4 linked regions of the Homo sapiens genome follow. The protein of the gene in region 2 purifies or fractionates together with the protein of the main gene of each other region. This does not show direct contact. Each region holds a gene or a part of one and is shown on either strand. Other genes may lie near its edges.

The links.
Region 1: the proteins of ZSCAN20 (region 2) and SCAND3 purify together in Homo sapiens (affinity purification with mass spectrometry; 3 studies listed by BioGRID and IntAct, with this or other methods). This does not show direct contact.
Region 3: the proteins of ZSCAN20 (region 2) and CAPG purify together in Homo sapiens (affinity purification with mass spectrometry; 3 studies listed by BioGRID and IntAct, with this or other methods). This does not show direct contact.
Region 4: the proteins of ZSCAN20 (region 2) and ZSCAN18 purify together in Homo sapiens (affinity purification with mass spectrometry; 3 studies listed by BioGRID and IntAct, with this or other methods). This does not show direct contact.

Annotation. Positions count from the first base shown.
Region 1 is NC_000006.12:28,584,273-28,591,449, reverse strand, and holds the start of SCAND3 (SCAN domain-containing protein 3), read left to right. Parts: upstream 1-4,151; 5' UTR 4,152-4,732; coding exon 4,733-5,152; intron 5,153-7,177.
Region 2 is NC_000001.11:33,496,619-33,502,145, forward strand, and holds the end of ZSCAN20 (zinc finger and SCAN domain-containing protein 20), read left to right. Parts: 3' UTR 1-5,025; downstream 5,026-5,527. UniProt on the Homo sapiens protein: May be involved in transcriptional regulation.
Region 3 is NC_000002.12:85,407,348-85,414,935, reverse strand, and holds the start of CAPG (macrophage-capping protein), read left to right. Parts: upstream 1-4,569; 5' UTR 4,570-4,619; intron 4,620-4,626; exon of another isoform or gene 4,627-4,654; intron 4,655-5,123; exon of another isoform or gene 5,124-6,375; intron 6,376-7,588. UniProt on the Homo sapiens protein: Calcium-sensitive protein which reversibly blocks the barbed ends of actin filaments but does not sever preformed actin filaments. May play an important role in macrophage function.
Region 4 is NC_000019.10:58,095,218-58,102,144, reverse strand, and holds the start of ZSCAN18 (zinc finger and SCAN domain-containing protein 18), read left to right. Parts: upstream 1-3,913; 5' UTR 3,914-3,971; exon of another isoform or gene 3,972-4,215; intron 4,216-6,927. UniProt on the Homo sapiens protein: May be involved in transcriptional regulation.

The sequences.
Region 1 (7,177 bases), on a different chromosome or scaffold from region 2:
CTAGTTGAGAGGAGGGCTCAGAGGAACCTAACTAAAGTTTGTTCAAGGGTGGAGTTTTTATAAATACCCACGGGAATTTCCTCAGCTTCCTAAAGGAATTGGTAGACCCACAGAACATGTAAGGCATCAGGGGGAGCATCTACATATGCTCCCAGCCTCTCCCAGTGTTGGTGGCTGCTTCCGCCTCCTCATAGCAGCTGCTCCTTGGCCTTCTGTTCAGTTCTGGGTCACGTTGTGCAGGCACCATCTCCAATCAGGTCTTGTCCATTACCTTAATTTAGAGGCTTGGGATAAAGTCTGAGTTACTGGTTTGAGCTAGGATAAGTGGATGCTTGACGATGGATGTGATCATAATGATTACTTACAGTAACACAGGCAGGCTATGGTGTTGGTCGGAAGGATGGCTGGACTTATAAGCATCCCAAACAGGCAGAAGAGGCTGTTAGGCCATTAGGAAAAGGGAGAACACTTTGGGTGAGATCTCATCACGCTAACATCAACAAAGTGGAAAGAAGGTGGGGCCACACTAGCTAAGGCAACACCACAAGAAAATGTTATTTCCCTCTGCAATTAGCACCATTACAGACCATATGAAGTACAATCAAGCACACATAACGGGAGCCAAAATAATGCTTTCATGAATTTTGTAAACTTAGTTACAGAGTCTCTGTGTAACCAATGGTAATTCAAAATATGAGCTAATGAATTATTAATGGTTTAATGGACTTGGTGAAAGTAGGATTCGATTTGGTTTTTTGGTATGTATGCGAAAATCAAAATGTCAAAGTAAGAAATCTGAAAATAAATAATTGGATTTAAAGGTTGTCTCTTACATCATAGAAGAGATTAATTTGTACGAAACACAAATACTTGTTTCTAATTTAGTTCTTGTCCTCTCTGTCCTCTAGGGCACACCTTTCCCTCACCTTGACACCTCACATTTCCCACCTCATTCTAACAGCTAAATTAGTGTCTATAAGGAATTTTCCAGACCTTCCGGGTTTCATCAACTCTATCTCCAATTCAATCCTCGTCTACACACACAGTTCAGGGGAGGCAAGATAGCGGCTACATTTTCTGTTCTTGACCTTCAGCTCCAAGGGACTGTTTCCCGGATGCTTCGGACCGAGTGTTTGGTAGTGTCTGGGGAGGACTCGGTCAGGGAGCCCCCTCCTTTCACCCTGGTACTAGGAGCTGAAGAGGCGAGATGCCAGGCGAACGGCTGAAGGCAGAGGTCTTTTTACCCCCATCTCCCTTGTCTCCCACACAAGTTGTAGGGCCCCTCCACCGTGTCTGGTCCTGAATTGGGAATGCCAGCTCCCAGCGCGGCGAGGCCCAGGTCCGGTCCTAGGTGAGTTTTTCTCTCCGGCTGGAAGACTCGACGCCGTGGATACCAGGGACCCGAGCCCTCCGGGGCTGCTGGCTTTGGAGGGATTTCCAGACGTTGCAGTCGGGGTGAGCGGAGAGACTAAGAAGTACAGGGGACTAGAGAAAGCAGATGAGGGTGAATTGTCTCATCAAGATGGGGGATAGGGAAAAGGGGCGAGAAGTAACCCGGGGCGCAAGGTCCACAGCGAAAAAAAAAAAAAAAAACAAACAAAAAAACAAACAAAAGAAACACGCCCGAGACCAAGGCTCAGCCACTTTACACGCAGGACTTGGTTGTGGCAGCGAGGAGGGCTTCGAACCTAGGAAATTTTGAGGAAGCGTTTGTCTCCATCACAGGAATTGGGTTTCCACGTTGCTGCTGGAGCTTTTCGTAAGTCGATAAGAGCAGCATCTTTCTCTTTGTCTCCAAACCCGTGAATTTGATACGCTTTGAAAGCGTTCTTCTAGGCGAAAGAGCTTGGTACTTTCATGCTTGGATAGAAGGGGAGAGTTCAATACCGTGCACGCGACCACAAAGTTGTTTTCGACGAGAATTCGATGGGAAGCGGAGGAACGAATTTTTCCCACATTCAGAGGCCAAGCCAGGAACTGTAAAACGTTCACCTTTGAAAGGTCCCACCGAGATTCGAACTCGGATTGCTGGATTCAAAGTCCAGAGTGCTAACCATTACACCATGGGACCAACCACAAGGGTACAGTAGGTAAGTATAGTCGTGGTTAAATACCTCCTTGATAATAAACTTTCTAGTTCCGATCCGAAAGAGTTAGGTCAGGCTTCAGTGAGACTCACGCTGACAGGAAAGCTGACGCTTTGCTGCTGAAGAAGGAGTAACTGTCAAAATAAAATTCAGGGAGATCTCTTCACTCTTTCCTGCGCTTTTGTTGGGAGCATAAATTAGCTTCCAGAAATCAACCGGGGCAGATTTGTGAGGTCTGAAACTTAACAATTTAGAAAGTCCTCTTTAAGAAAAAGAACAGCTGTTATCAACATAAAATTATGGGTACTCTAAGGCCTGTATGATGTATCTGAGGATAAGCTGGAGTAGGGAGAGGAAGCTGTCTTAACTAATTTTCACTATACTAGCATACTTTTGCAAATCTTACAAAATATGTTTCATACAGAGCAACCTCTTCCCAAGGCCTTGGAAAGCACAGCGCAAGGAAAGGATCTTAACACACTTTAGCGAGACTCACGATAAACATCCCTCTGGGGTGCAGATCTTTTAGCAATATCTATCAAAATAGTCTCTTCTACAGCCACTAAAAAGAATGGGATAGACATGTAACACATGTTGGCTTGGCAGTTTCTGGGGGAGGATTTAAGTTTAAAACAAACCAAAAAAGCCCAGTAACTTGGTGAATTGTAGTCTAGTATGATTTAAGTTTTGCAAATTATAATGAGTTATAATTGTGACTCAGTTATATTTGTACATAATAATATTGTACTCAATTTTGTATGTACATTTTAAAAATAGGTTGGAGGTACATACAACAAACTCGGCATCAATTTTTCTGAGGAATGGAACTGAGGATGAAGAAACTTCACTTCTTGCCACGTTGACTTTTTAAATATTTGACTTTTTTTATAAGTGTCTATCACTGTTGTAGTAATTAACAAATGCAAATCTACAAAACAAAACAAACAAAACAGTAAGGCTCGTCAGTAAAGGACTTAGAAGTCATGCTTACTCCATGTTAACTGCCTACTGTGCTCAGCATGGCAGAGATCACTGCCTTGCAGAATGAGAAAAAGGTAGTAGAATCCCTGATTGCAAAGGATAGTTAGGGGGGGAAACAAAAGATAAGTTCAGCACGTTAAAAGTGACTGGGAAAATGATCTTTTCAGGGTTGGATGACACAGGCACACAGACAAAAATTTTATACAGAATTTTACTCAAGACCATTCACGGACTCTAAGCGTAAGATTTCTTTTTTATTTAGAGATTTCTAAAAGAGATGTTCTGATTATTCAAAGACTCTCTACTCAGAAATGCCAAAATGTGAGAAATCAACATGAGGACCACAGCAGAAGGAAACAGAGAATGGAGAAGGGAACCAGGCAGCAATTCAACAAATATTCCTTGGGCATCTCTGCGCTACCAGAGGTATGGAGGAACCCAGTGACTGCTTGAAAAGAATGTTCTGGTTACTCCACTCCAGTGATTCGCTAGGCGCTGATCAGCCGTCCAGATTTTGTTAGATTTCTGGGACCAGTTTCCCACAGTTGTTTAGTCACGGCTCTGTGCTCCGTGACTAAACAACTGAGGCTCATTCTCGGTGGTCTTGGTTTTCTAATCCGTAAAATGGAAACAATGGACTAACTCTTACATTTCTTTTTAAGTCTGATTTAGGGTGAAAGGGAAAGGTGAAAGTGGCCCGAAATTAACGAGGAAAGGCGGGGGACGATCCTACAGATTCGCTGACGTGGTAGTCCTTAGGGATGCTCCTCTCCATTTTGTTTCAGGTCGCTGCGGTGAGCACCACGGGTCTGAGTGCCAGCGATGGTTTATCACGGTGACAGGAAAACACAGACCAGCAGCATCTACTCCAGCACTACTCACACTGTGGAACTCTTTTCACCGTGATGCCAGATAACTAGGTAATTCCGGAGTTAATTCTCCGTCGTTTCCAGAGTACTTGCCTCCCCAGAATTACTGGTACCGTAGGTGTTTGCACAACCAGTGAGAAGACGGCACCACCTGGAATCCTAGAGCGGACCGGAAGTGAGCGTGGCTCACCGGGCCCGGCCGGAACCTACGGGCACAGCTGCGGGTGTGTCTGCGGAACCTCCACCTGAGCTGTAGAGTGTTTCCCTCGACCCACTAGTCTGGGTTCCACAGGGTCTGAGCTCCTCAGAGGTGGGAGCTGCGGCCGAGGGAAGGGTGCATGTGCGCGGCGACAATCGGGCCTCTTCCCCAGGCAGCTTGTGAGCCCCTCTCCCTCTCCGCCCTCGCCCAGGCTGCTCCGATCTTCGTTTCCTTGCCTAGGCTCATACACCCAGGCTTTATTTAGGGCCAAAGTATCCGTCATAACCTCGGTTTTCTGTCTCGCAAGTATCTTGCCGCTCAATTTGTGACCCTGAAGCTTTAGTGAGTCGCTCTGTGCTCACTATTTCTGGTCTTTTCAGAGGATGGCTTCACTTTCAATGGAATTGCCCGAGTAACTGCCCTGTGTTGTCACGTAAACAAGTCCTTTTAAACTGAGTCTGTAGTTGTCCTGTGTTGAGTGTTTTCTTATATCAAAAACTTTCCTGACCAAGAACAAAAAAGGAGCTCAAGTAAAATCACCCATTTGCCTAGACCCCAACTGGAGAGAACCTTTGCCTGAGCTGTCTAAGCTCGGGATGGAAGCAGTCTCTAGGGTCTTCCCAGCCTTGGCTGGCCAGGCTCCAGAAGAACAAGGGGAGATTATCAAAGTAAAGGTTAAAGAAGAAGACCACACTTGGGATCAGGAATCAGCCCTACGTAGGAATTTGTCTTATACCAGGGAACTCTCTCGTCAGCGCTTCAGGCAGTTCTGCTATCAGGAGACACCTGGGCCCAGGGAGGCTCTGAGTCAACTGCGGGAACTTTGCCGTCAGTGGCTGAACCCAGAGATACATACCAAGGAGCAGATCCTGGAATTGTTGGTGCTGGAGCAGTTCCTGACCATCCTGCCTGAGGAGCTCCAGTCTTGGGTGCGGGAGCATAATCCTGAGAGTGGAGAAGAGGTGGTGACTTTGCTGGAAGATTTGGAGAGGGAGCTTGATGAACCTAGACAGCAGGTGAGAAATTGGAGGTGCCATCTTCTGTGGAGAATTTGGGTGCATGGATCCAGAATGGAGTAATGGGAGTAATTTCGCGCTGGTGGTTGGAAACCCTGGTTTGGGGCATTATTTCTTATTTGATCACTGGTGTAGATGAATAGATGCGTGCATATGAGATAACAGTTTTTGTGTATGATACAAATAATTAAATGATTTAACCAAATGGAAAAGCTTGATCTATTTTTTACCAGTAGAAAATATATTTTATGTAGTGACTATGAGATTAAAGAAATATACAATAGTAAATTTTTTTTAAAAAATTACTGTCTTTTGAAGCTATCTAGGCTCTGTTACTAATTAGCTGTGTAACCTTGGGCATATTACACCTTCTCTGGGACATTAATGTCTTCATCTGTACAATGAAAATACTAATTGCATGATTTCCTTGGTTCTTTTCAGTATCTAGAGTTGGTATGTAAAATGTTTTGAGCTCAAAATTATTTTTAGAAGAATTTTAAAAGCTTTTTGCCATTACAGTGGAGTTGTTTCTAAAGGAGTATATTTGCCTTCTTTGACAGTAATTTTAGAACATTGTGGATATTGCCAGACATTCTTATATTTTTTAGTGATACTATTCATACATTTATCTGAACTCTTTCAGAATGTGAACCCTTTATGTATACAGTCTGATCTGTTAAAAACGCATGTTTCTGGAATGCAAAATCTTTTAAAATGAGGTCAGTATGCCAGAAATGAGTCAGTATAATGCTGAAATTGTGTAAGCTCATGTATGAGTTTTCCCAGCAAGTTGATGTTTGGGGCCACCAGGTGGGAGTAGCTGAATTCAGAGTATCTGATGTAGCTGAGCACAGCAAGTCCTGAATACATACAGTACTGTACATAATTCCCATTTGCCCCCACATCCTTCCTCTGGCTGTCTTGGAAGCACTTATTTACATTGTTCCCTCCCATCTTTGTGTATTTTTTGCTAAAGTTTTTTGTATTCCAGAAAAGGAGCAAGCAGAGGGTTTTGCAAGTGCCATAGAAGTGTGCTTGTGATAAAATTTCTGCTAGTGAGTATAAAAGAAGAAAAGCTTTAACAATTGAAGACAAGTTTGAAACTATACAGTGTTTTGAAAGAAAAGAAACTGTGAGATTGGTCATGCAACTGGCATAAAGGAGTAAATGTATGTACAATTAGAGACAATGATGGGAAAAATAAAATTATCTAGCTGGAACAACTGCCAGTGTTATGAAATCTGTTGGAACAAGGAATAAGGAAATGGAGGAAATGGAGCATTTGTTAAGTGTGTGGATTGAATACCAAACAAGGAAGCAATCCAATGCAGTCTTTCTCAGAGTTAAAGAAAATACCTTCACAATGTATGGAGACATTAAGAAAAAAAGATGGAAGTCCCGCAGAAGTGCCTTCATTTAGTGGAAGTAGTGGCTGGTTTAGTATCTTCAAGAACTACTGTACTTTCCACAGTGTTAAACTGTCTGTGCAGACGAGGCTGTAAGTGCAGATGAAGAAGCTGCAAAGACATTTTCCCCTCATTAAGAAATTAGATTGATAAGGAAGGCCATCCCCTGGCTCAGATTTTTACTTTTTATGAAACCAGTCTCTATTGGAAGCAGATGCCCTCAAGGGGATATGTGGAGAATTTGGATGCATTGATCCAGAATGGAGTAAGCAGGACTGGAAGTACTCTAGAAACACACTGTGGGGTTTAAGGCTACAAAGGATCAACTGATGGTGATGCTGGGTGCAAATGCCAGTGGAATTTTAAAGCTAAAGCCTGTGATTATCATTCTGCCAATCTATAAGCTTTAAAATGAATTGTAAAGACTAGCCTTGGTGCCTACTACAGGTCTAGCAAGAGAGACTAGATGACAGGGCAGATATTTTCTGATCTTTCGGGTGATTTTTTTGTAGATTAAAAAAAAATAAAACATTGCAAGAGAAAAAAATTGTCTTTTAAAATTCTTATAATTCTCAGTGATACACCAAGCCACCCTCCAGTAGTCACTGAGCTTTCCTCA
Region 2 (5,527 bases):
ATCATAGGTTAACCCTAACAGAAGCCTGGGGTCCCTACATTTTTGTCTGTCTGGCTTTTCCTTTTGGCAAGCAGAAGCTTTGTTCTTGGTCCCCATGCCAAGACTGAGGTGGGAGGTGCTGGTGTATATGGTCATCTACTGAGAGGGCCTTGACCACTGTTCTGTGTACCAGGTTCTTGGCACAATTTTACCCTGAGCCATCCTGTCCCAGGCCTGCCCAGGGCTTTCTGTATGTTGACCCTTAAGACTCACCTCCCACATGGACAGGCTAAGTTAGAAAGGTTCACATAGGATGGTTTTAACATTTGCAGCACTTTGGCCTCCAGAGTTTCTCCTTAGAAGGGTTTAAAACTGTTGACCAAGGACTTCGGTTTCCATAGGACTTTAAAGGAAAATCCCCCTCCTGCCATCCTCTTATGACACTAGGATGTATTCATAACCTGCTTGGTTCATGGGCTGGGGAAGTACCTATCAGATAGTGGATGTGAAGCAGCCTTGAAGAATGGAACTTTTATTAACATGTGAGGAAGCCAGTGGAGAGATTTGCTACTCCCACAGAGTGATATCCCTTCTTAACCCCTTCCCCTGCTTCAGAACCTCCTTTCCCAAGAACCAGCCCCACTAGGATCACCGTCAACTCCCTCCCAGTTTACCTTTTCTGGCCCACGTTATCTCTGCGGGGCAGGGGTCATGGGATGAACCCTGGATAGAAGTCAGCAGATGTCAGTAACTGCAGTAATACAGTGATATTGTCTAGTAATGTGAGCTGAGAGGAAGGATCCTGAGGTGAGGGAGAGGGAGGGAATTCCAGGGAAAGGCACTGTTGTGTGGAATAGCATGGATTCAGGGTGGGGTTGTATGATGGGAGGTTGGGAACAGGGAGCTGATATTAGAGGAGTGCTGGAGCAAGGTCACTGAGGACCTCACATGTGAATGGAGTGTCAACACCAGGCCCGGGGCAATGTTCAGATGTGCATGGTTGAAATCTGACAGCTGAATGGAACTTGGACATGCTGCAATTAGGATGGCCTTTTGGGACACTGTTGTGGTATTTCAGCTAAAGGCTAGGGTCTGAACTAGAGCAGTGGTGACACTGAGGAGGAGGGAATGAATGGGAAAGGTCTCAGAGGCAGAGGGGAGGACATCAGAGGAAAGCTAGAATGCCTTTGGTGACTGGGTAGAGCATGTCCTCATTCAGAATTGGGAGCACAAGGAGGAGAGGCTGATAGAGCAGGAGGGCAGAAGATGAGAAGTTTAGTTTGGTATGTCTAGAACTTGAGGTGCTTAAGGGAAATCATGGTGATGCTATGCATTTGGATGTCGGCTAGCAGCTAGGGGAGAGGCTAGGACTAGAGATCTGTGTATGCGAAGTAGTTAAACTAATGAGAAAGGAAGAATTTCAGTTTCAAATATTGGGCCTAGGACAGAGCTACTTGATAGTGCTGAATGGAGAGGAAGATGGCCCTCAAAGGAGATCTAGACCATTCCCCACTCCCACCCACTACCATCATGTTCTGGACCCTGTCTTCTTTGTTACTGACCCCTGAATTCTTCATGTAGCCCTGAGTTTTCTGGAGCCCTCACTGTGGAAGTCAAGCTGAGCTCTGTGTGGATGTGAGGTGGTAGTCCTCTCTCCACTTGGTCACCCTTTCCCCTGGGTTTGGTAGTGTGTTAGTGTCTCATATCTTTAGTGAACAGTTTTGATGTTTATTATCTGCCATTCTTGTCTCATGAATCTTAATAGAGGTTCAGTCATGAAAGCAAGGCCAGTGTGGGCCAGGTGAGAAAATGGCCCAGGTGGTCCCTTCCTCCTTGTCTACCTGACTTCCTTTGGAAGAAGCACTCTTTCAGGGGGCTTCAGTGTTCCAGGCTTGCTGTCTACCCAAGAGCTTGCTGGGCACCCAGGCGCCCTCCAGTAGGTCTGTGCTGCTCAGATAAACTGACATCTGGTTTTACACACCCTGAGCTTTGCTAGCGTGATTCTGCTCTTGGGAAGTAGATTCACTCTGCAGAATGGGTGGACAGTTTCTCAGCCTTCCTGGCCACAGGTCAGACCCTGGTTATGGAAAACCAAACCAGCAAATGCTGCCCTGGGAGGGTGTTACATCATGTGAGCTGCTAAAGGCAGGATCGTCTCCCCAGATGGCTGCCTCCCCTTGATTTCTTCACCCTCCACCTCAAGAAGGGCATTGGCTCCTCTGAAGGGACAAAAAGGTACCTAAAGGACCTTAGGCCTCCCATTCCTCAGACCCCCAGAGGCAGCAGACCCAAAGGTAGGGGCAGGGAAAGGAGGGGCCAAGACTTTTTCAGATACTCGGTTTTTTCTAAGGCCTTGACCTCAGCAGCTGAACTCATGGTCATGGCTGCCTTGGCCTTATTGTCCACTGTAGCCTCCTCCCAGAAGCCGAGTAAAGCAGCTAGGGTCCCTCCATGCTAAATAATGTAGTCAGGCGCTCTGGGTAGTCCGTCCTGCCTCATCTTGTTCTGGGGCCCCCAGTGGGGATAGCTCTCTGCTTTCGGGCTGCAGAAAAGAATTGAGTCACTTTCTGTAGGGGAGTAACACCCTTTGGGGACAGGGGTGCAGTTTTGAAGTAATGAAGGCAGTGATGTCTGGAGTGGGTGTGGGTGTTGCAGGTGAACTTGCCTCACCCAGGCTGTTCTGGGTCTTTGTACTCCAGAGTTCTGTCCTAGGCTTGCTTCTTCATTCACTCTGTTTCCCTTTCTCTTCTTTTTTTCTTTTCCTTTCTTTCTCTCTTTTCTTCTGTGTAGATGCTAATGACTTCCAGATCTGTGTCCTGCTGTGGCCTCTCCTCTTAGGATCCCAGCTGCCTGCCAACCAGCTGTGCTTGGGTGACTCCTGGGCATCTCAAAGCCCCGGTGTCTACCATCACCCATCATGGGGCTCTTGGCCTGCCCATTCAGCACGTGCATTGATGTACACACTCAGTGACTCCCATCCAAGCCTCCCCTGCACGTGCCTGGAGAGACCTGCCCATTGGACTCATCTTGGACTCAGTTCTGCCAATACTTTCTCCCTTCTAAGAGCATTTCCAGTTGGGCTGGAGTTACCCAGCTGCCTGAGAGGTCTCTTTCTGAATGAAGTCAATATCTAAAGTCAAAATTAATCATTCAAAATATTCCCTTACCCCATTTTTTTTGGGGGGGAGATGGGGGTCTTGTGTTGCCCAGGCTGGTCTTGAACTCCTGGCCTCAAGCGATCCTCCCACCTCAGCCTCCCAAAGCTCCCCTTAACCTCAGTTTTGATCCCATCCTCCATTTGGGCATTGCTCAGCTCCCCCACCTGTTAATAGCAAACACCAATCTCAAGCCCCTGCCCCAATCTGCTACAAGGGGTTAGTGTTCCATGCAGTGGGAGTGCAGGGAAGGCTTTACAGGAGAGGAGGGAGTTGAAATGGGCCTGGAGGCCTGGGATGGTAGACACTGGATCCTTTTCCCCCACAGCTCCTGGCTGTTTCTTCACACTCCCAGCATCACTATTACTGCTAGCATGTCTTTAGCATCATTTTGCCCTCCCTCTGACTTTCAGCAAGCCTGCACTTACCTCCAAATAAATGCATGTTTTCGGGGGGCAAAGGCAGGTTCCTTCCTTACCTTATTGTTGCTTCCCCCACCCCATGCTGCAGCTGAGTGGGTGACCTTTCTCCTCACCTCCGTGTGCCGCATCTCTCACCTAGTCTCTGTTAGGAACCCTACAGGAGCCTGCACCCCAGTAACCCCATTTTATGCTGCTTGGAGGAAGAGACAGAGAGTTTGAGAGGTCCCAGTTCTTTTCAGTGTGTGTTTGGTTCCCCCACTTCTCAAAGCTGAGAGCTTCTTTGTTTTAAGAGCCACTTGGTTAAGTCAAGAGCATTAGAAGAGTAAAAAGAAGAATACAATTAGATAATTTTACCTAAACATGCTATAGTCGACTAGGGAGTCACATAGACATTGATTTTCTAATGAGGGCGCTGTTGGTGATTCTTTTTGTGTGTAAAGATGCTTCTGATCATGCCTGCTATTACATGATACTTATTTCTAAAGTCACTTTTTTTTTTTTTTTTACATTTTCATTGTAGAAAAATATCCCATAAAAATTGTGCCCCCTAGAGGGCGAGGGCCACGGGAAGGGGGATCAGGAAAACAAGAATCAGTCTCTAAGCTGGTCCTGGAGCAGCATGACAGATGTATCTGAGCCCAAGCAGGAGAGGAGCCACAGGCCCAGGCTGGCAGAGTTGTGACTACTAGAATCTCGAGTCACTGGGGCTCAGGGAGCCCTAACTTGGTGGCAGGTGACAAATGTGGCACAAAGGAGAAAGGAGTCTTCTCCTTCCACATAGAACACACTTGGCTTCAGTGCTTTGGGGGGATTCGTGGACCACAGAGAAGCTTCCGCATATTTATAGGCACTGGGGACCAGCAGGAAGTGGTGGTGAGACACTTTGAAACCCTCCACTGCAGACTTCACCCAGGGGGCAAGGCAGGAGAGAATCCCTCTGTGGACAGCACTTGAGAGGAAAGGGCTTGTTCATGACCACGTATGAGGTCGCCAACCCAACCCTGTTCCTGAAGTTTCCCAGAAATAGATGGAGAGGTAAGGCCAGCTAGGCTGGAGCGCCAGCATCAGTAGTAGGGGCAGGAGCTCACGCTAAACCCGGTTGGTGTGTCCTGGAGAAGCACAGGTGTCATCTCCAGGGACCTTTCTCGACCAACTAATTTATGGAAATGAGACATTTGTAATTGATTTTAATTCCCTCTTAGGGACTGTGAAATTAAAATGGATTAAATTTTGTCCATCAGGAGCCTCAGGGATTTAATGTCCAATTCTAAAACCTGAACAGGCCCTTTTGTTTTGCAATTTGTGGACCAATCCCTGGCTTCATTTTATTTGGCTTTGCTTTCACTTCCCCATTTTCTGTTATTTTTTTTTTTTTTGTGCTGTTATGTACATCTCTTAAAGCTGGTCAAATCATATTTTGGGATGGAATGGCCTGATAAGTTAATAAATTATATTAAACTGCCAAAAAAGGAATGTGTTTTCGATTCTTCTGGCTTCTTCCTGGTTACACCAAAAGCATGGGGGAGAAAAGGAAGGGAAGTCATCGAGACACAGGTTGTCAGGGAGATTGGGGCCAAGGTCTCAAGCCCCTTGTGCTGGGCAGGTGTCTTCTTTTCATTGTTCCCTGTGGTCCTTCAGACATGGGTGGCTCTTCAGGCATGTCCACAACCCCAGGAGCCATGGCCTCAGTGGCCGGTGCAACTGGCCGGAGCCACAGTGGCTCCGGGTGTCGGGGCTGTCCTTTTGTCCCTTTGATCTTACGCAGGGTGAGGGAGCCAATCACGAGAGGCTCACCCCTGACGTCACCCAGTCCCCAGGGCCAGTGAGGGCCCTGCGTTCCATGGGGCCCCCTGGAGGGAGGAGTGGCATCTCAGTCTGCTGGTCCCTATGCATCTACTTTGATATGTCCCTCAGGATCCCTGTGCTAGGAAACCAGAGGTGTCTGAAATCCAAATAACACAAGGATAATTA
Region 3 (7,588 bases), on a different chromosome or scaffold from region 2:
TCTTTGTCAACTGACATCTCTCATGGGTTGGCTATGCCACATTCAGGAGCCAAGGCGGAAGTGTGGACCCATCGCTGTCCAACACATTTCCAGAAGGCCTGGCCTCCTGGTGCAGATGCTTGCTGGCCTGTTTTCCTCTGAATAAAGAAGAGAAGGGTCAGGTGTTGCAGGTCAGATCAGCCTGGGTTAGAATCCTGGTTCAGCAGTTGGGTGCGGTGGCTCATGCCTATAATGCCAGCACTTTGGGAGGCCAAAGCAGGAGGATCACTTGAGCCCAGGAGTTTGAGACCAACCTGGGCAATAGAGTGAGACACAGTCTCTCCAAAAAAAAAAAAAAGTTTAGCTGGGCGTGGTGGCATATGCCTGCAGTCCCAGCTACTCAGGAGGCTGAGGCTGGAGGATTGCTTGAGCCTGGGAGGTTGAGGCTGTAGTGAGCTGTGATCACAGCACCGCACTCCAGGTGCCGCGACAGAGTGAGACCCTGTCTCAAAAAAAAAAAAAAAAATCTTAGTTCTGCTACTGAACTAGCAATGTGACACTCTGGACAAGTTAGTTACCCTCTCTGAGCCTCCCAAAGACTTCATGTTTCCAGCAGGAATAATGATAGTAGATGTGAGGACGCACCAAGCACATAGTAGGCTCTCACAGAACAGTAGCTGTTCACAGGGTGATTGAGGCCGGGGGCCTAACGATTGAATGGAAGTGAACACTGCAATTCTCTCGCAAAGTTTACAGCACAGTAAGCTTGTCCTTAGCTTCCCCTATACCCTCCTTCCCACGCCCAATTCTAGGACCCTTTCGGGCGCCCCAGCCTCCCATAGGGGCTCCCCGCCAGCTCAGACCGGCCGGGCCCCTCCCTCTGACTCACCGGGGGCGGCTCCTGGCCGCGCACCTCCAGGGGGCGGGGGGCGGCTGAGACAGCGCCCAGGGCCTCGGAGCAAGGCGTTGGCAGGCAAGTAGTGCGCTTCGGGGTCCGGTCGCCGGGGACCTGGGCTCCCCATGTAGGGGTCGAACGGGCTTAGCCGGTTCGGGGGCGCCCCGCTCCCTCCTCTTCTCCCACAGCCGGGGTCCTCTCTTAGGGGCGCGCCGTCTCCTGGCTTCCTGTAAGAAAAGGCGGGAGAGGGTGGGTCCGTGCTAAAGAAATACTTTATTTTACTTCATTTGGGACAAACTAAGCAGTAGTGCTCAGGGGAGACCACAAGGGTAGGAACACTGTGCGTCTGGTAAAAAAACTAGTTCTAGAGCGTCGTTACCAGATAACTCATTAGCATGTGCATTGAGTTCCTAGCCGCTCCCGAGAGTCCTAGGCTGAGCGACCGGCCCTTTTGTTTCGCTGTTGTTGTTGTTTGTTTTTTGAGACGGAGTTTTGTTTTTATTGCCCAGGCTGGAGTGCAGTGGCGAGATCTCGGCTCACCGCAACCTCCGCCTCCCGGGTTCAAGCGATTCTCCTGCCTTAGCCTCCCGAGTAGCTGAGATTATAGGCGCCCGCCACCACGCCCAGCTAATTTTTGTATTATTAGTAGAGATGGGGTTTCGCCACGTTGGTCAGGCTGGTCTCGAACTTCTGACCTCAGGTGATCCGCCCGCCACGGCCTCCCAGAGTGTTGGGATTACAGGCGTGAGCCACTGCGCCCAGCCAGTTGTTTCGCTGTTAATGTGTAAACCTCTCCCCTTTTTTCCTGTGGTGATAGGAGAGGCTTTAGCCTAGACAGCTGAGTGTGAGGAACAGTGATTCCCATTGATCCTTGTTCCCTCCGTGGGTCACAGAGTCCAGAACTTAAGAGCCACCCAAGGTATGCGCTGTTGTGACCAAAATCTATGAAGCTTTCCAGCGCTGGGGCTGGGGATGGAAATAGGAGAGTGCTCTGTGGTTTAACTTTCTTTCCTCCTGTGGAGAAACCGGGAGCTAGGGGAGTGGCCAGGCACATTTCTACCTCAGGTGCTGATGGCACATTGCAAACTAAAGGGAAGAGAAAGAAGTCTGGGTTTATCGAGCATGTATTATTTGCTCATTAATCATAGGATCTCATTTCATCTTCACATTTAACTGTATGCACGTGTTACAGATTGGGGCACAGGGAGGCTCCAGGAGGTTAAGTCACTTGCACAGCTAGTAAGGAGCCAAATTGTCTAGCTCTTATCACTCTACCAGGTTAACCGCCCAGCCTGTGGTTTTGTGGGGACTAGGCCCTACTGGGATTCTCACCCAGACTATCCTTTTTTTTCTTTTTTAAACTTTTAAGTTCAGGGGTACATGTGCATGTTTGTTATATAGGTAAACTCGTGTCATGGGGCTTTGTTGTACAGATTATTTTGTCTCCCCGGTATTAAGCCTAGTACCCATTAGTTATTTTCCTGAATCTCTCCCTCCTCCCACCCTCCACCAAACTACCCTATTATTATTGTTATTATTATTATTTTTTGAGACTGAGTCTTGCCCAGTCACCCAGGCTGGAGTGCAATGGCGCAATCTCGGCTCACTGCAACCTCTGCCTCCCGGGTTCAAGCGATTCTCCTGCCTCAGCCTCCTGAATAGCTGAGATTACAGGCATGCGCCACCACCCCCGGCTAATTTTTTGTGTCTTTAGTAGAGATGGCGGTTTAACCATGCTGGCCAGGCTGGTCTCGAACTCCTGACCTCATGATCCACCCGCCTTGGCCTCCCAAAGTGCTGGGATTACAGGCGTGAGCCACCGCGCCCGGCCCATATTACCCTATTTTTAAGCCTGGCAGTTTGGCCATGGAGACACTTGGATGCTAGCTACAGGCCATGTTCTTTGGGGAGAAGATTTAACTTCCCGTCTTGCTCTAGTGAAATTTTATCAATTTCGTTTCAATGAGAAACATTCATCCAGTATTGCTTTTTTTTTTTTTGAGATGGAGTCTTGCTTTGTCTCCCAGGCTGGAGTGCAGTGGCGCCATCTCGGCTCTCTGCAGCCTCCGCCTCCTGGGTTCAAGTGATTCTTCTGCCTCAGTCGCTCCAGTAGCTAGGATTACAGGCACCCATGACCATGCCCGGCTAATTTTTGTATTTTTAGTAGAGACAGGGTTTCACCATGTTGGCCAGGCTGGTCTTGAACTCCTGACCTCAGGTAATCTGCCTGCCTCAGTCTCCCAAAGTGCTGGGATTACCGGAGACAGCCACCATGCCCAGCCTATCCAGTACTGTATTTTCTCCAGACTTTTCCCACGCAGTCAAATAATGAGGTTTTGTTTGAAGGTCTGCTAATTAGGAAGATTTGTTCCAGATTTTGCTCCAGGGTCCCCAGGCCTTGACCCTGAACCTGGAGCCTTGTCTCAAGCCAGCCTGCTGACCAATACCTTTCCAGGACAGGCCGGCTAGGTTCTGGGCAGAGGAACTACGCTTGTGTGGCTGCATAACTGGGTGCTCACTTTCTCCTGGAGCCTCATACTGAGTCCGCTCATCCTTCCCCCAGGGATTCAGAAGGGAATGGGAGCCTCCCTTGCAGGGGCTTCCACTCCCTGTGTGTTTGTGGGCAGTCTCTTGTGCTCTCAGGACCTCGGTGTCCTCCAGAAAGCCAGCGAGTTGGAGGAGACAAGCTCTAGGGTCTAGTGACTGTGATGTAGGCAGGATAGTTGCCCTGGGTCAACCCAGGATGGGCTGTCTCTCAGAGGGCCCAGGGCCCAGAAGTCATGATGATAAACATCTGGTGAATGAGAAGCAGACCAAAGGGTAGAGACCTGAGAGGCATCAGCATGGCATGCGGAAGATGGTGAAGAATGTTTTATGGCCTCAGCCATTCCCTGAGAACTGAGCTTAGCCAGGTGCAGTAGCCCACGCCTGTAATCCCAGCACTTTGGGAGGCCAAAGTGGGAGGATTGCTTCAGTTCAGGAGTTCTAGACCAGCCTGAGTAGCAAGACTCTGTCTCCAGAAAAAATAAAAAAATTAGTCGGGCATGTTGGTGCAGGCCTGTGGTGTCAGCTGCTCAGGAGGCTGAGGCAGGAGGATCGCTTGAGCCCAGGAGTTCAAGGCTGCGGTTAGCGGTGATAATGCCACGGCACTCCAGCTTGCGTGACAGTGAACCCTGTCTCAGGAAAAAAAAAAAAACAAAAAAAACCAAAAAACTGATCTTAAAAAAAATCAAATACTTGCATTCAGGGCAAGGAGAAAGACAAACTGAGGGAGGAGGAAAAAGTAATGTGAAGCCAGTGACCCTGCCCAGAAAATGTGACTAACCCAGCAGCGGTGGGGGCTGTGCCGCGCCTGCCCCAGGCCCTGAATGGAGAACATGGCTTTCCTTGCTGGTCTCAGACTCAGAGATGCCCTCCCTGATTTGCCTTGGCTGTGACCTGCAGCGGGCTGAGGCCACTGTGGTGGGGCTGTGTGGACCTCCAGCCTCCCTGTGTGCCCCTCTGAGGAGACGGCCTGGCATACCCACTGCCCACCCCAGTGACTGCTCTTCTGCTTCAGGCCTGCTGGCCTCCCAGCACTGCCTGCCCCTCCCTGTCGGGGGACATCGCCTCCACACCGGCTGGGGAAGGAGCCCAGGGGTGGGGCTGGTGGGTGGGGCTGGTGGTTGGGGCAGCCAGAGAAGTAAGAGGGAAGTGAGAAGCCGGGTGGGGCAGGCTGGAAGGAAGACGAACCTACGAAGCAGAGGTAGGAGGAAGAAAGGAAAGTAGGAGTGTTGAAAGGTGAAGGTGGCAGGGTGGCTGCCAGCGCGGCTGGCTGGTACCCTCCTGGGTGGGCAGGCGAGGGCTGGCTGTGGTGGCCTGGGAACAGAGACCCACATTTCTGGATACCACATTGTGCCAGGGTGGAGTTCCCCCAGCCTGCTGTCCTGCCAGCCTTATGCCAGGCTCCAGGCACCTGATCTGATGGCAGCTGTGAAGCTGCCCGGGAGGATGGGTGGGCTGTGCCCATGCTGCACATGGAGGAACTCTTGGGTCAGGGCTTGTCCCAGCTGTGCCAGACCTCCTGACGGAGGCCACCACACTGCTCCTGAAGGCCCTCAGCCAGACTGGAGGTGAAATCAGATTAGAAGCTGCCTGTCCCCAAGACAGGACTGTGGTGTGATGCTATTTGGGTGGGAGTGGCTTGGGGAGGGGGCAGGGCAGTCCTAGCCATTTGAATTCAAATGCAAGTGGCACATTTGATTATTTTGCAAACTCTGGAAGACCTTGGCTGAGGGTCTAGGTGGACTGTCTGAGGTAGGAGGTGGGGAGGGAGGAAGTGGTTGACCCTGGGGAAGGGTAGGAGACCTATTTGGTATCAGGGGAAAAACCATTTGGAATCCCCAAATGAGGCCTCTGGACCTAGATTCTGAGAATGCCATGTCCCAGGCTGGGAGATTCAGTTTGGTTTCGAGGGTGGGCACCTACCTCCACCAGGAGAAGTGGAGGTGCTGTTTCATTTCACACCTAGGGGCAAGCAGGGACTGTGAAGGGAAGAGACCTATTGGGGGTCAGTGGAATCAGGGTCTGAGGAAGGCAAAGGTACCACTGGACCCCGGCAGGATTTTTGTCCCTCTGATGGCTGTCAAGTCTTTCCTTAAAGGTGTGTGTAACGGTGACCTCCTCTCCGAGGTCCCCCAGTGTGTCCTCAAAGACAGCCTAAGTCAGGACCATGGGACAGCCAGCAGGACTTGCGTCCTCCCCTCCCCCAGCCCCATGGCAGTCTGGGACCCCTAGCCCCTGCTCTCTGCCTCCTGGGGCTGCTCCAGCCTGTCCCAGCCTTTTGAAATCCTGGGCTATCCCTTAGGTGCCACCCCAGTCTAATAATCAGAGCCCAGCAGGTCCAGTTAATCAAATGCATTCTTTGAGCACCTGCATGAGGTTCCAGCTAGATCCAGAGGCAAAATACACTTCCTGCCCTAAAGGACCCTACAGTGTAGTAGTGGAGGTAGGCGGGTCCATAACTCACCACACTATGGCAGAGTGGGGAAAAGTAAAGGCTTTAAGAGGTGTAGAAGAGGCTGTTTGGTAAGGTGGTGAGTTTCCCATCACTGGAAGCCTTCAAGAAGAGGATGGTAAGGGATGCTATAGAAGAGATTTCTGCACTATGCGTGTATGGGTATGTGTAGGGCGGTGCAGGCAGAGCAGGACTAGATAAGAACTTTAGCGCTTTCTTTTTTTTGTTTTATTCCTCCCCCCCGGCCCCAGCTCCCCTCTTCAACTTTAGCACTTTCTAATGCTGACATCTGTGATTCTGTGACATTCCCCACTTAGAGGAAGTTCGTCTGCGGTTTCACTGGGTATGGTGGCTCCCTTGTTCACTGCACCCTGCAGCTAAACCATAAAACATGGGCTATTCTTTGTCTCTGTGCATGTCACCCCCAGTGCCAAGCCCCCAGCACAGACGTTGAGTGGAATGGAATAGACTCTTTGCTGGGCTGCTTGAGGAACAGAGGCATCAGGTGTGTCCTTGCTCCAGTTGAGATGTGAAGCAGCCAGTTTATGCTATAAAACAGGCTAAAGTATGTGCTCCCAGGGGAGAGGGCTGGGAGAACTCCCAGAGAAGGCGGAGGCCACTTAATGTCCTGGAAGTTTCCTTGGACAGCTGGGGCTTGATACGGGCCTGGAAGGATAAGGGGGCTTGTGTGTGTGTGTGTGTGTGTGTGTGTGTGTGTGTGTGTGTGACAGATTCTTCCTCTGTTGCCCAGGCTAGAGTGCAGTAGTGCCATCTCGGCTCACTGCAACCTCTGCCTCCCGGGTTCCAGCAATTCTCCTGCCTCAGCCTCCTAAGTAGCTGGGACTACAGGCACGCACCACCATGCCTGGCTAATTTTGTATTTTTAGCAGAGATGGAGTTTCACCATGTTGGCCAGGCTGGTCTTGAACTCCTAATCTCAAGTGATCCACCCGCCTCAGCCTTCCAAAGTTCTGGGATTACAGGCATGAGCCACTGTGCCCAGCCTAGGATGAGGGGGCTTTAATGGATGTAAGGGTGAACATGGACACTGAGGAAGCTCAAGGAGCTGTGGGCTTGGACAGAGGGCTGGGATAGGGGAAAGAATGAAAGGCCAGAGGTCAGGGTGGACCCTTCCCCAGGAGAGACTGGAACAAAAGGTCTCGGGACAGAGATCTAATGAGGCAGCAGGAGTTTCAACCCTGACCAAGCATTAGAGTCATCTGGAGCTTCTCAAACACTGACATCCAGGCTCCACCTAGAGAGTCTGGTTTTAATGAGTCCAATATGGAAGCTAGTCACTGGGGTTTTTCTTTCTTATTTTTCTGTAAATTACTTTTTTTTTTTTTTTTTTTTGAGACAGAGTCTCACTCTGTCACCCAGGCTGGAGTGCAGTGGTGTGATCTCGGCTTACTGCAACCTCCACCTCCCAGGTTCAAGCAATTCTTGTGCTGCAGCCTCCCAAGTAGCTAGGATGACAGGTGTGCGCCACCACGCCCAGCTAATTTTTGTATATTTTGTAGAGACAGGATTTCACCATGTTGCCCAGGCTGGTCTTGAACTCCTAAGCTCAAGCATTCCACCTACCTCAGTCTCCCAGTGTGCTGGGATTACAGGCATGAGCCACCATGCCTGGCTGGCACTGGGGTTTTTCAAAAGCCCCCAAATGATTCTAATGTGCAGGTGAGCATTTGACACTGTTCTGGACAGAATTCACTGGC
Region 4 (6,927 bases), on a different chromosome or scaffold from region 2:
ACAGGGAAAAGTCACCGTCCTTATGGAGCTTCTACTCTAGCTTTTATACTGAAATACCTTTTGGTCAGTAATCGTGTGTGTGTGTATGCATGTGTGCATTTTGAGGCTTTTATTTATAAAAGAAAACATAATATGCCTGGAAGCTAATAGGTGCTCATTTAAGTGTGTGATCTCTGGCTGCTTAGAAGGCCTATATAGGAAACTCAACCCTAATTAAAGAAAAAAGTTATGTGAAATTACATGAACACACTGGTGCAGGACCATGTAAATATTAGCAGCATGGTTAGGAGTGAGATTCTGTCTCAAAAAACAAAGAAAAAAAAAAGGCTGGGTGCGGTGGCTCACACCTGTAATCCTAGCACTTTGGGAGGCCAAGGTGGGCGAATCACCTGAGGTCAAGAGTTTGAGACCAGCCTGGTCAACATGGTGAAACCCCGTCTCTACTAAAAATACAAAAATTAGCCAGGCATGGTAGCACATACCTGTAATCCCAGCTACTCAGGAGGCTGAGGCAGAAGAACCACTTGAACCCAGGAGGCAGAGTTTACAGTGAGCTGAAATTGCATCACTGCACTCCAACCTGGGTGACAGAGCAAGACTCTGTCTCAAAAAAAAAAAAAAAAAAGAAGAAGATAAAGTATATGGGAAAGCACAAGACTTGGAATAGTTAAAATAACTTTGAAAAAGAAAAAAAGTGGCCGGGCGCAGTGGCTCATGCCTGTAATCCCAGCACTTTGGGAGGCCAAGGCGGGTGGATCATGAGGTCAGGAGATCGAGACCATCCTGGCTAACATGGTGAAACCCTGTCTCTACTAAAAATACAAAAAAAAAAAAAAAAAAAAAAATTAGCTGGGCATGGTGGCGGGCGCCTGTAGTCCCAGCTATTCGGGAGGCTGAGGCAGGAGAATGGCGTGAACCCGGGAGGTGGAGCTTGCGGTGAGCCGAGATCGCGCCACTGCGCTCCAGCCTGGGCAACTGAGCAAGACTCTGTCTCAAAAAAAAAAAAAAAAAAAAAAAAAGTGGGAGGAATAACTGCACCTGATGTTGTTACTCTGTAGCCGTGGTAACCCAATGTGGTATTGGCAGACACATAGATCAGTGGAACGGAATCGAGAACCCGGAAATAGACCTGCAAAGATATTCCTGACTGATTTTTTAAGGAGCAAAAGCTATTCAATGCAGGAAAGATAGCCTTTTCCAGATGGTGCAAGAACAATTGGCCATCTGTGGTGTAATAAAACCTACATTTCATCTTTTTTCTTTTTTTTTTTAGATGGAGTTTTGCTCTTTTGCCCAGGCTGGAGTGCAGTGGTGCGATCTCAACTCACTGCAGCCCCTGCCTTCCAGTTTCAAGCTGCCTCAGCCTCTCGAGCAGCTGCAATTACAGGCACCTGCCACCATGCCTGGCTAATTTTTGTATTTTTAGTAGAGCCAGGGTTTCACCATGTTGACCTCGTGATCCGCCCGCTGGCCTCCTAGAGTGCTGGGATTACAGGCATGAGCCACCGCGCCTGGCCCTTACATTTGATCTTTATCCCTGGTTCCTGGCACAGAGCTAAAAGCCTTGGAATTTTGTGAATAATAGGAATAGGGTTTGCAATTCATAAGGAGCCCGTTTCGACCACACCTGAGTTTATGCTAATGAGGTGACTCCAGTGGGACCCATAGATATCTTCAGGATGGGGATAGTCACCTTAAAGAAGGTATGGACCCTCTCTCTGCCCCACGATTGAGAGAGCTGGGTTGGTGAACACATCTGAGTGCTGGGAGGATGGCTCACCCAGACGGTACATGGATGCACTGCACCTTCAGTGCCCCTGACCAGACCTTAGCTGTGCATCTCTTCCATTTGGCAGTTCCTGAGTTATATCCATTAAAATAAACTGGAAAGACTGGGCATGGTGGCTCATGCCTGTAATCCCAGCACTTTGGGAGGCCATGGTGGGAGGATTGCTTGAGCCCGGGGGTCTGAGACCAGCCTTAGCATTATAGTGAGACCCCATCTCTTAAAAAAAAAAATTAGCTGGGTATGGTAGCGCACACCTGTAGTTCCAGCTACTCGGGAGGCTGAGGTGAGGATCACTTGAGCCTGGAAGGTCAAGGCTGCAGTGATTCATGATGGCACCACTGCACTCTAGCCTCAGTGACAGAGTGAGACCTTGTCTCAAAAAAAAAAAAAACATAGCTTTCAAAACTGAGCAATTTTTTTAAAAATTAGAAAATGGGCAAAAGATACGAACAGATACTTTAATGAAGAGGGTATACAAATGCCAAAAAAATCATTAAAGTGTGCTCAAACTTGTTAGCAATTAAGGGAAATGCAAATTGAAACCACAATGATATATCAGTACATACCTATCAGAATGGCCAAAATAAAAAATAGCAAAACACAAATGCTGATAAAAATGTGAAGTGGATTCACACATTCATTGGTGGTGGGAGTGTAAAATGGTCCAGCTACTCTGCATGAGAGTGTGGCAGCTTCTTACAACACTAATAAGCACGTGTTCATTGTGTGACCTAGAAACTGCACTCTTGGGCTTTTATCCCAGAAAAGTGAAAACTTACGTTCACAGAAAAATCTGTACACGAATGTTCATAGCAGCTTTATTTTTAATAGCAAAATACTTAAAACGATCCTAATATCTCTCAGTGGGAGAAGGTTTAAACTGCTATATACCATAGAATACTACTTCTCAATAAAATGGAATGAACTGTTGATACATACTACTTCAATGCCTCTCAAAGGAATTATGTTCAGTGAAAAAGCCAATCTGAAGAGGCCACATACTGTATGATCCCACTTATATGACACTGTGAAGGCAAAATTGTAGCAGTGGACTACTTAGATTAGCTGTTCCTGGGGTTATGGGTGGGGAGGGAGTGACTACCAAGAGGCAGCAGGAGGATTTTTGGGCAGTGGAGCTATTCTTTGTCCCGAGTTTGTTGGTGGATATGAGTTAAAATTCATAAAACTGAATACCAAAATGTGTGGTGTATGTAAATTTAAAATATATAAACTGTTCAGATATACATTTTAAAAATCAGTTCACACAAAAACGACCAAAATGGCATCCTCATAAGCGCCTCTATCTGGAAAACTGAAATGGGAAGCAGCTCCTGGCCCTATCCTGCCTTCCAGGGGGGCTACATTTATATGGGGCTTTGCCAAAGCCCTCACCCCAGCTGCCACTCACATTTCCCTCATTTCAGCAGCTCCTGAATCCCTGGGGTGGGTAATCTTTGAGTTCTATCCACTCCTTGAAACTGTAGAACCCATTTTAGCGCATCAGTGTCTCTGGGTCTCCACCTCTTGTCTCCCCAGTACTGGGTCTGCTGGTCCCTGTCTCTGTATCTCTGTCCAGATCTGTCTCAGCCTCGAGTGCTCCTTTTCTCTGGGTCTCTCTCTTTTCCTGAGCCTGAGCTGGTCTCTTTCTTTTCTTGAGCCCATGCTGGTCTTTCCCTTTCTTGATCCTGGGCTGGTCTCCCTCCTTTCTTAACCGTGAGCTGGTCTCTCCCTTTCCGTGTCCGACTCTGTACATCTCTGTTTCGGGGACCCCAGGGCGTCTTGGTCTGCCCCCGAGCGTCTGTGGGCCTTCATGCTTCTCTCCCTCCCGGTCTGCGCGTCTTTTTGTCTTTGTTTCTCCGTTTCTCACCGTCTTTGTTTCTCCGGGTCTCTGGCTGTCAGGGGTCTATTATTTACCCGCTTGTTTACTTCGTTGCCATGGTGCCCAAAATGACGCAGGCGCCGGAGTGGGCGGGACGCCGGGAGGCCACACTCGCGTCTGATTGGCCATGCGCACTGTCACCTGTCACGGCTCCCTTGCTCGCCCCGGTGCGCGGCACAGCCTCGCGGCATTGTGGGAGTCGTAGTCCGCGGTGAGGCCCAGTGCGCAGGCGCAGTTTGCCGGCCGCCATCGCGCACTGGGGCTCCGGGCGGCTGGGACCGGCCTGGGGTAGCTGCGCAGCAGGTGGGTCGGTCCCGGGGATGCAGCGCGGGGGTCAGAGAGCGACCCCAACAGGGTAGACGGTGAGGACGCCTCAGTGGGCAGCGTTAGGGAAAGGGGCCAGGGTGTTCCCGGGGTTGGGGTGCGAGCCCCCGCTGTGCGTCCAGGAGGCCGAGGGTCTGGCATCCCTTCGCGTGGAGTGCGGGGCAGGGGCCGGGTCCCCCCGGAGGTGGCTGAGATCCAGATCGGTGAGGGGCCCTGCAGGCAGGTAGGGAACTAGTGCAACCCCCACCCCGTGTAGGCTCGTGGAGGGGAGGCGCTTAGGGCACCCTGTGGGTGGGAGAACAGGAAGGGGCGGCTCCTGATGGGGGAGAGATGAGGGAGGGGGAGGCTCCTGATGGGGGAGAAAGGGGGGAGGGGAAGGCTCCTGAGGGGGGCGAAAAGGGGGAGGGGGAGGCTCCTGAGTGGGGAAGAGAAGGGAGGGGGAGGCTCCTGAAGGGAAGAGGAGGGGAGGAAGTGGGGGCTGAGGGTGTGAGGATGTGAGGGTGTCCGTGGTGGGGGGACGCTGGGCAGGCTGTGGCCCCAGGGGCTGGAGCAGGGAAGGGATGGAGGGTGCGGGGACCAAAGGGGTGCCTAGAATGGGCATTGTCTCTGCTGCCCCCACCCTTGGAATATCTCGCCTCTCCCCAGTCACCTGGGGGTGGGTTCTGTTTGAGTTAGGTGTCTGCGCCCACCCCGGAGACCTCTCTCGTGGAAGAGGCAAGAGTGGGTGTACTGGCTTCGGTCCTGACCCAGGGGGTTGGGGTGGGGGCCTGACTCACCCTCCCATCACTCCTTCCCCATTTCCTTTCTCTCACCCTCCTGGGCTCCTTCCTTTTCCCAATCCCCCTCTACCCCCGTCCAGACTATCTGGCTTTCCCTGCTCTTGCTCCTTCCTCTCCTGTCTTCTCTCTCCCTGCTACCTTCCCTCCCCGCTTCCCCCATTTCTGTCTGCCCTCCTTCCACTTTCCCATATATTCGCCTGTGTCCTTGCTGACTCCTGGGCGAGGCTGAGTGGCACAGTCACTTGGTTCCATGTCACCTCCTCGGTTCCATTTCACTTCCCCCATCCCATCATGTCCTGCGGATGGTTTCCTGCCCTGGAGTCAGAGCGGGACCACGTGTCGCATCGAGTTGCTGTTTTCTGTGCATGATGCTTGAATCTGTGACTTCCTGGGTATTTCTGGCCTCGGGTTTTCGGGGAGCCTAGGCCAGTTGCGCAGGACATCTCTCTGGTTCTGTCTGTCCTGGCGAGTGGATCAGGGACCACAAAAGGCAGCTGAGATGTGAACGACGACCCTTACTCCATGTTTTTTCATTCTTTTAAAAGCACTTTTACCCCTTTTTATAATGAGTAAGTGATCTGTGGATGAAGCCAGGGCAGACCCTGGGAATATCCGGCGACCCATCAACAACCACATCCCATGCATTGAGCTTCCCTGGCTGATCCTCAGGCCTGTGGCTGTGGGGTGGTTTGCTAGACCCTGCCGATGAGTGTGGTGGGATGGAGAGCTGCGATGAATATTCCTCAGGTGGCCAGGGCTGGGCCCACGGAGGGCCAAACCAGGCTTGAGCTCTGCTCAGCCCAGGATGAAGGGGATTTGCTGCAGGACTCTGGAGACCCACCAGGCTTGGGACCCCTCAGCTCAGCCACCCCTCACCCACCGTGGAGCTCTCTGCCTCAGCTTCTGTATTCCAGGCCTCTGGGTGCAGCAAAGCCTACAGGACTGGCTCAAGACTTGTGCAGATTGCTTCATTTGCTGAGGCTGGGGGGCTGGGCTCCAGGAAAATCCCATCTGAGGCAAATCCTGGACAGTCCCAAGATTAGGGGAGGGAGGTTTGCCCAGTGACCAAGCCAGACTCCAACGAGGTGTGGCCTCATTCAAGCAGGCTGTGGCAGGAAAGGGTCCCAGTGGTATCTCTATTTTGTTTGTTTGTGAGACACGGGCTCATTCTGTCGCCCAGGCTGGAGTGCAGTGGCCAATCACAGCCTCCAACTCCTGGGCTCAAGCAGTCCTCCTGCTTAAGACTCCCCAGGCTCTGAGATTATAGATGTACGCTGCCGCACCTGCCCCGGTGAGATCTCTGAGAGTCCTCTTGACAGTGTGGCCAGGAATGGGGCTGAAGGAGGCAAGAAGACACAGGGCCAGAGATTTCTGGAGGCTCTTGAGATGGCCTCATCCTCCTGGCTGTGAGCATCAGGGTCCCAGTAGGAAGGGAGATGAACAGGGAGAGGCTGTTTTCACAGGAGGCAGCAGCTTCCTTGGAGTTGGGCGTTTTAGGAGACCCCTGGTTCCATGGAAGCTTCTGCTTTGCAGGTGAATGGAGGAAGTGGAGGCAGAGGTGGCTTCCCAGAGAGGCTCACAACTTGTAATGCTGAGGGGGAAGGGCACAGAGGCGAGGAGCTCCCGTTCCTGTCCCCAGGGGCTGACATGTGTCCCCCACTGTCTTGGCCAGTGACCCAGCCGGAGGGTGTCCCGTCCTCCCCACGTCATCCCGCCCCTGCCAATGGCCGAGGACCCTTGCTCATTCTACCTAGACCCCGATGCCTCCACCATGCTCAGAGCTGGGAAGTTGGAGCAGGAGGAGAGGGGCTGGGGGAGCTGGCTGGGATCTGCCCACTGTGGAGGCCATGAGGGCTAGAGGGGAGGGCCGGCAGGAGGCCTCTTAAAGGGCAGGCTTATGGGCCTGGACGGGGAAGGATGAGTGGCAGCGTCACTTTGCAGGTGGGGTCCCAGCCTTAGTGATTGCCTGCCTCGTGCCTCTATTTCCCACTTGCACCTTGGGGCTGCATGTGGTTCCTACCCCTCTGGGATTGTGAGGTTCTGATGAGGGAAGGTTCTGTGCACACACATTATGGAGCTCACAGTTTGTTTTGTGGAGACAGGTTCTCTGCAAGGTGAACAAGCCTCTGGCGTCCTAAGAAAGCCAAAATTACATG